2 linked regions of the Homo sapiens genome follow. The protein of the gene in region 1 purifies or fractionates together with the protein of each later gene. This does not show direct contact. Each region holds a gene or a part of one and is shown on either strand. Other genes may lie near its edges.

Evidence for each region. Proteins that work in one complex are often made in the same cells at the same time.
Region 2: the proteins of SORT1 (region 1) and TMEM9 purify together in Homo sapiens (affinity purification with mass spectrometry; one large-scale study listed by BioGRID and IntAct). This does not show direct contact.

Annotation. Positions count from the first base shown.
Region 1 is NC_000001.11:109,328,419-109,331,918, forward strand, and holds part of SORT1 (sortilin isoform 1 preproprotein), read right to left. Parts: intron 1-3,500.
Region 2 is NC_000001.11:201,137,475-201,140,974, forward strand, and holds part of TMEM9 (proton-transporting V-type ATPase complex assembly regulator TMEM9 isoform a precursor), read right to left. Parts: intron 1-3,500. UniProt on the Homo sapiens protein: Transmembrane protein that binds to and facilitates the assembly of lysosomal proton-transporting V-type ATPase (v-ATPase), resulting in enhanced lysosomal acidification and trafficking.

The DNA of each region.
Region 1 (3,500 bases):
CTAATCTGTGTGAGGAGATACCTCATTGTGGTTTTGACTTGCATTTTCCTAATGATTAGTGATGCTGAGCCTCTTTTTATATGCTTGTTAGTCACTTCTATATTGTGTTTGGAGAAATGTCTATACAAGTTCTTTGCCTATTTTTTATTCAGGCTATTTGTTTGTTGTTGAGTTGTAGCTCAGTGGCATACTCTTGATTCTGAAATGTACTACAATATCTGGAAGCAAATATTTCCTCATGGGTAACCTGTCTCCGTTTATTTTATTTTTGCATTACATCAAAGCCTCTGAACAATGTTTAAAGGCTGACTCTACACAAATAAACTTGATAAGCACCTGATATACTTCAGACACCGTACAAGATGTGATGGTGGTTCGAAATAAGATCCAGTCTTGTCTTTAAGAAACTTAAAGGCTCCAGGTCCACTCTCACAGACCCAGCCAAGTGGACCCCTGCATCAGGCCAGCCCCTGCAGGCTCAGGGTAGGGCCCACCCCTGCACCAGGCTGGCTCCTGCAGATCTACTTACCGGGCTCCAGGTGTTTCACCTGAAGACCCACTTAAAAGGTCCACCCTAGTGGATTCCACTGCCAGGCCTGCCGCAGAGGACCCAGCCTCCAAGCTACCCCCAAAGACCAAGGCACCAGGCCCACCTACCTGCAGAACCTGTCAGTTGCCCCCCCAAGAATCTCTGGATGAGCTACCTGGTAAGGGCTTCCCCTGCTGAAGCCATCTGTAAAGGCCTATGTGTGTAAGAGGACACATAGGCTAAAAGTAGAGATAAAAAAAAGATATTCCACTCAAATGGTAGCCAAAAGAGAGCAGGGGTGGCTATATTTATTTATTTATTTTTGAGACGGAGTGTCGCTCTGCCACCCAGGCTGGAGTGCGGTGGTGCCATCTCAGCTCACTGCAAGCTCTGCCTCCTGGGTTCATGCCATTCTCCTGCCTCAGCCTCCCAAGTAGCTGGGACTACAGGCGCCTGCCACCACACCCGGCTAATTTTTTGTATTTTTAGTAGAGACAGGGTTTCACCATGTTAGTGAGGACGGTCTTGATTTCCTGACCTCGTGATCCGCCCGCCTTGGTCTCCCAAAGAGCTGGGATTACAGGCGTGAGCCACCATGTCCAGCCGGGGGTGGCTATATTTATATCAGACAAAATAGACTTTAAGTAAAAAACTATCACAAGGGATAAAGAAAGTTACCACACAATGATAAAGGTGTCAATTCATCAAGAGCATATAACATTGGTAAATATAAATGCACTCAACATTAGAGCACCTAAATGTATAAAGCAAACATTAACAGAACTGAAGAAAGAGGTAGACGACAATACAATAATAGTAAGGGACTTCAATACTTACTTTCAATGATAGATCATCCAGACAGAAAACCAGTAAGGAAAGAGCAAACTTGAACAACACCATACAAATGGACCTAACAGACATATACAGAACATTCTATCCAATAGCAGCAGAATATACATTCTTTTCAAGTGCACAGAGAATATTCTCCAGGATAGTGCATATGTTAGGCCACAAAACAAGCCTTAACAAATGTAAGACTGAAATCACCTCAAGTATCCTTTCTTTTTTTTTTGAGACGGAGTCTCACTCTGTCACCTGGGCTGGAGTGCAGTGGCGTGATCTTGGCTCACTGCAAGCTCCGCCTCCCGGGTTCAAACAATTCTCTGCCTCAGCCTCCTGAGTAGCTGGGATTAAAGGCACCCGCTGCCACGCCCAGCTATTTTTTTTTTGTATTTTTAGTAGAGACCAAGTCGGCCAGGCTGGTCTTGAACTCCTGACCTCGTGATCCACCCACCTCAGCCTCCCAAAGTGCAAGGATTATAGGCGTGAGCCAGTGTGCCTGGCCTCAAGTTCTTTTCAACTACAACATTATGAAACTAGAATCAGTAAAGGGAGGAAAATTGGAAAATTCACATGAATGTGGAAATTGAACAACATATTCTTGAACAACCAATGAGTCAAAGGGAAATAAAAAAAACTTGAGACAAATGAAAAGGGAAACACAACATATTAAAACTTAAGGGATGCAGCAAAAGCAGTTCTAAGAAGAAAGTTTATGGTGATAAATGTCTACATTAAGAAAAAAGAAAAATCTCAAAAATCTTAACTTTATACCTCAAGGAACTAGAAAAAGAACAAACTAAGCCCAAAGTTAGCAGAAGGGAGGAAATAATAACAGAGCAGAAATAACTGAAATAGAAGTTAGAAAAATAACAGGAAAGATCAATGAAACTTAGAGTTGTTTTTTTTGACAAGATAAAAAAGTGACAAACTTTTAATTAGAATAAGAAAAAAAGAAAAGACTCAAGTAAAATCAGAAATGTAAGAGGAGACATTATAACTTATACTACAGAAAAAACAAAGGATCCTAAGAGACTACTATGAACAACTATACATCAACAAATTGGATAATCTAGAAAAAAATGGATGAATTTCTAGACATATACAGCTTACCAAGACTGTATCATGAAGAAGAAATAGAAAATCTGAACATACTAATATGAGTAAGGAGGCTCAATCAGTAATCAAAAACCTCCCAACAAGAAAAGCCTAGGACCTGATGGATTCAATGGTGAATTCTAGCAAACTTTCTTCAAAGAAGAATTAAGACCGATCCTTCTCAAACTCTTCCAAAAATTGAAGAGAATGGAACACTTCCAAACTCATTTTATAAGGGTGGTATTACCCTGCTACCAAAACCAGACAAGGACACTAGAAGAAAACAAAATTACAGGTCAATATCTCTGATGAACATAGATGCAAAAATTCTCAACAAAATACTAACAAACTGAATTCAACAGCATATTAAACAGATTATATACCATGATCAAGTAGGATCTATCTGTGGAATGCAAGGATGGTTCAACATATGCAAATCAATAAATGAGATATGCCACATTAATAGAATGAAGGATAGAAATCATATCATCTTGATAAATCCAGAAAAAGCACTTAACAAATTTCAACACCCATTCATGATAAAAACTCTCAATAAATTAGGTATAAAAGGGATATACCTCAACATAATAAACCCATTCATGATAAAAACTCTCAATAAATTAGGTATAAAAGGGATATACCTCAACATAATAAAGGCTATATGTGACAAGCCCACAGCTAACATCATACTCAAACAGTCAAAAGCTAAACCTTTTCCTCTAAGATCAGGAATAAGACAAAGATGCCCATTCTCACCACTTCTGTTCATTATAGTAATGGAAGTCCTAGCTGGAGCAATTAAGTAAGAAAAAGAAATAAAAACAAAAAGCATCCAAACCAGAAAGAAAGAGGTAAAATTGTCTGTCTGCAGGTGACATGAGCTTATATATAAAAATCCTTAATCTTTAAAGACTCCACCAAAAATGTTAAAACTAATAAATTCAAAAAAGTTGCAGAATATAAAATCAACATATAAAAATACAATATACACTAACAACAAACTATCCAAAAAAGAAATCAAGAAAATTTCATC
Region 2 (3,500 bases), about 92 Mb from region 1:
CACACACACACACACACACACACACACACACACACACACACAGAGTGAAAAGAAGTTTCATAAAACAATACTTAGTGTAATGCATTCTGATATTCTTTGCTCTGTTCCATTCCATTTTTTTAAAAATCCTGGTCATGACTCACAGAATTCATTTCATGACCTAATGGCTTGCTTGAAATACACTGGTTTAAGATTAGTAGATGGGTATGGCAAAGTTAAATAACACACATATAAAGCACTTACTATCCTGGCTGTCACAGAGCTAGGGCTCAAGAAATGTTTGGTTTCTTTCTTCCCTAGGAGCGATGACTAATATCAGAGCCTAGCTCTGGAAGCCACTAGGCAGTAAGGCTGGCGGCTGGCTGCCAGGAGAAAGCCTGTGAAAACTGCCATGGCTGCTGCCCCTCCTTCCAGTTCCATGCCTTCCCTGTTCACTGTGCTGACTGAGCTGGCCACAGTGCTAAGACCAAGCCTCCACCCAGTCCTGCCTCAGTGTGGCCGTCTACATGAGGTGGGCACTAAAGACCCATCTGGGAAGCTATTGGCCCACCGGGACTTGGCTCTGGGGGCTGGATTGCCTTCTCTTCTTCTTTCCATTCCCAATCTCATCCTTTCTGGGACCATCTTTCTCATGACAGGGCTCCAGTGTGTGTGTGGGGTGGGGTGCTACGCTTGGAAGGGTGGGGCAGCTTTAGCCCTGCCCTCCTTCCACTGCTCTGTATCTCAGGGGAGCGTCTTGAGAAGGGGAAGCCAGGGAGAGCCCAGAGCACAGCATTAAGGGAACATGCTGAAATTCACCACATTACCACAGTATCATTTGTTTTCCCTTCATGTAAAGTCTTAACAAACAGCTCCTAAGTGGGGGAAAGCTGCCACTGAGAGGCTGAGTTTCCATCGCTAATAGTCTGATTAAAAGGTATTAAAGACTCCACATCTGTTTCAGAGACAGCCCAGAGTGGGGCCTCATCCTTGCTTGCTCTGCAGCAAGTATGGTGGGTGGAAGTGGGAGAAATGCCACCAGTTCCTCCCCTCTCCCTCTGAGGCTGGGCCTCCGGTTAACTCGGGAGCAGAAGGGCAGTTAGGAGGGGAGGCGGGTGGAGCCCCTCCCAATCAGAAAAAGAGCTTGGACATGGATGGATTCCCAGGAGGTCCCCAGGGGGACCAGACCAGTGTGACTATGACAAGTGCCACTATGTGCCAGGCGCTCTGCTAGGCACTTTACACAGATTATTCCCAGGCTTACAACACTGGCAAATGGGTAAAACCATCCCCTATTGTAGCTGCAGAAACTGAGGCTCTGAAAGATGAATCATCTTGCTGCCCAAGGCTGCATGGCTGTTTAGTGGCCAAGTCGGAATTTGAACCCATGTACGTATATCTCTTATCCTAGGACCCAGCTGGATCCTTCTTTGGCTGGTTTCTCCTAAGAGGGAGCCAGCATGGACAACCAAAGAGACAGGCTGGTATATTTCCCCACAGCTAGAGCAAGAACAGAGCACTTCTAAAGGAACCAATGCTCAGGACATCAAGCGAGGCCCTCTTCTCCACACTGGAAGGACCCAAGTAACTGTGTGGATAAGCCCCAGCTGATCAAACTAGCCCTGAGCCCTTCAGGCCGTCCCAGATGAAACCCTCTTCAGTCTGCCCAGAAGCACTGGTTCTGAGCTGGCACTGGACTTGGCCAAAGCCTGATGACAAGGAGACAGGGAGAGTGAGAACCCCACCTCAGGCGGCTCTCCTCTCTCTGGCTGCTCCTCCTCCCTCCTCCCCAATCCCAGGCACAGGAGCATGACCAGGTGGTCTCATCACTTACCAGCCACTCAGCAAAGCATGGTCCTAGTGCAAAGCCCTTCAGCAAGAGGACTATACAGCCTCTCTGAGTTTTCCATGTTTGACCCAAGTCCTTGCTGCTGTTGCTGAGTCCCACTGCACCTCTGCTGCGAGGCTCTCCCTGACCCCTGCACGCTGCGGCTAGGGCCACCTTCCTATGACACACCAACTCATGCTGTTTCCCTGCCCAAAAACCCCAGCTGGGACCCACCTGCTCACAAATAAAACCCTGCTGGGCCTGACATTCAAGGGCACTCCCAGCCTCACCTCCCCCCTTACCCCCCAGCCCAGCCTCTGGCCACACTGGTCCATGCATCCTCTGTCTACCTGCGGTGATCCTCACTCAGGCCCTTGTGCACGCTGCCCCTCAGGCTTCCCTCCAGCAATCATGATGCTACTTAAGTATTAACACCTGATTGAAATAGCGCATTCTTAAGGACGAGCAAACACTTGTAAAGCTTCCATACACACGATCGCAACAGTTATGCTGAGGTAAACATGATTATGTGTATTCCAGACTTAGAAAACTAAACCAGGAGGTTAGCACCAAGGATAGTAAATGGCAGGGCTCGGCCCCTCCCAGGACTGTGATTAACCACAATGCTGTGCTGCCCCACTGGAGGCTCTAGAAGCGTCTGTTGAACCGCACATCTTTCTATTCTGCCCTCAGGGGAGGAGGCCGACTGGATTGCCCTCATCAGTGTGTCTGTTCCGTGTTTCACTGTCAGCTTCCCAGGGCTGGGGTCCTCAGAACACAGCTGCCACCCATGTGCAGACAGGAGGGGAGACTGCTCCTCAGTGGCCCGAGTCTTCTCCCCGGTGCCTGCATGTTCCAGTTCCCATCATCATCATCACCTTTCCTTGATTTCCCTGTATACTCTCTCCCAAAGGGGGCCCAGAACTCTACCCACTGCCCCAGCAGGGTGAGCACTTTGAAGACCTCTCCAGAGCTTGGGCCCATGCTGTGAGCAGCGACATCCCCAGCCTCAGAGAAACCATGTGTCTCTCTTCAAAGAGGGCCCAACCTGCACATCTAAAACAGCTCTGTTTGCCGTTTCTGCCCCAGCAAACATGCTTGCTTCCTCCTTTCAAAGGACGTCTGAGCCCAGGGATTATGCCTAATGCTGCTGGAATCCCAGGGGAGGCAGCGCCCAGCAATCAGGGCCTACTGAGGCTCTGCCAGCGCTTTCAAAGGGAACATGACAAGCTTTCATCTCCCTCCATGAACGGGGCTGAGGCTGAGGGGGAGGCCTCCTCTTCCTCTTCCAGTTCTTTACCCCCTGGGCAGGAGAGCTCCTGGTCACAGGAATTGGGGAGAAGGAACCAAGGGGTCCCTAACCCTGAAAAAATGCCCTGACCTCCAGATCTCACCCCTAACTGGGTCCCAGACTTCTGGGGCGTAGGGCCTGAAAGCTCCTGGAGCCTAGACAGAATTTTCCTTCTAAAGTCATCGAGTTGTACAGGCCTAGGCGAACTTTCAAGGAACCCAAGAGGCCATGTCCTGACTTTGTTCCTCTTGGGGTGAAACCCAGAGACATGGCTACAGCCTAGGTGCTGCTGCCGCTCAGCTGAATGCCTGCCCCCCAGCCCCATGTTTCCCCACATCCCTTTCCTCTGTGCACTGAGAGGGGCAGTAGATTATCCCTCGTCGTCCAGGACTAGGGCCCCCA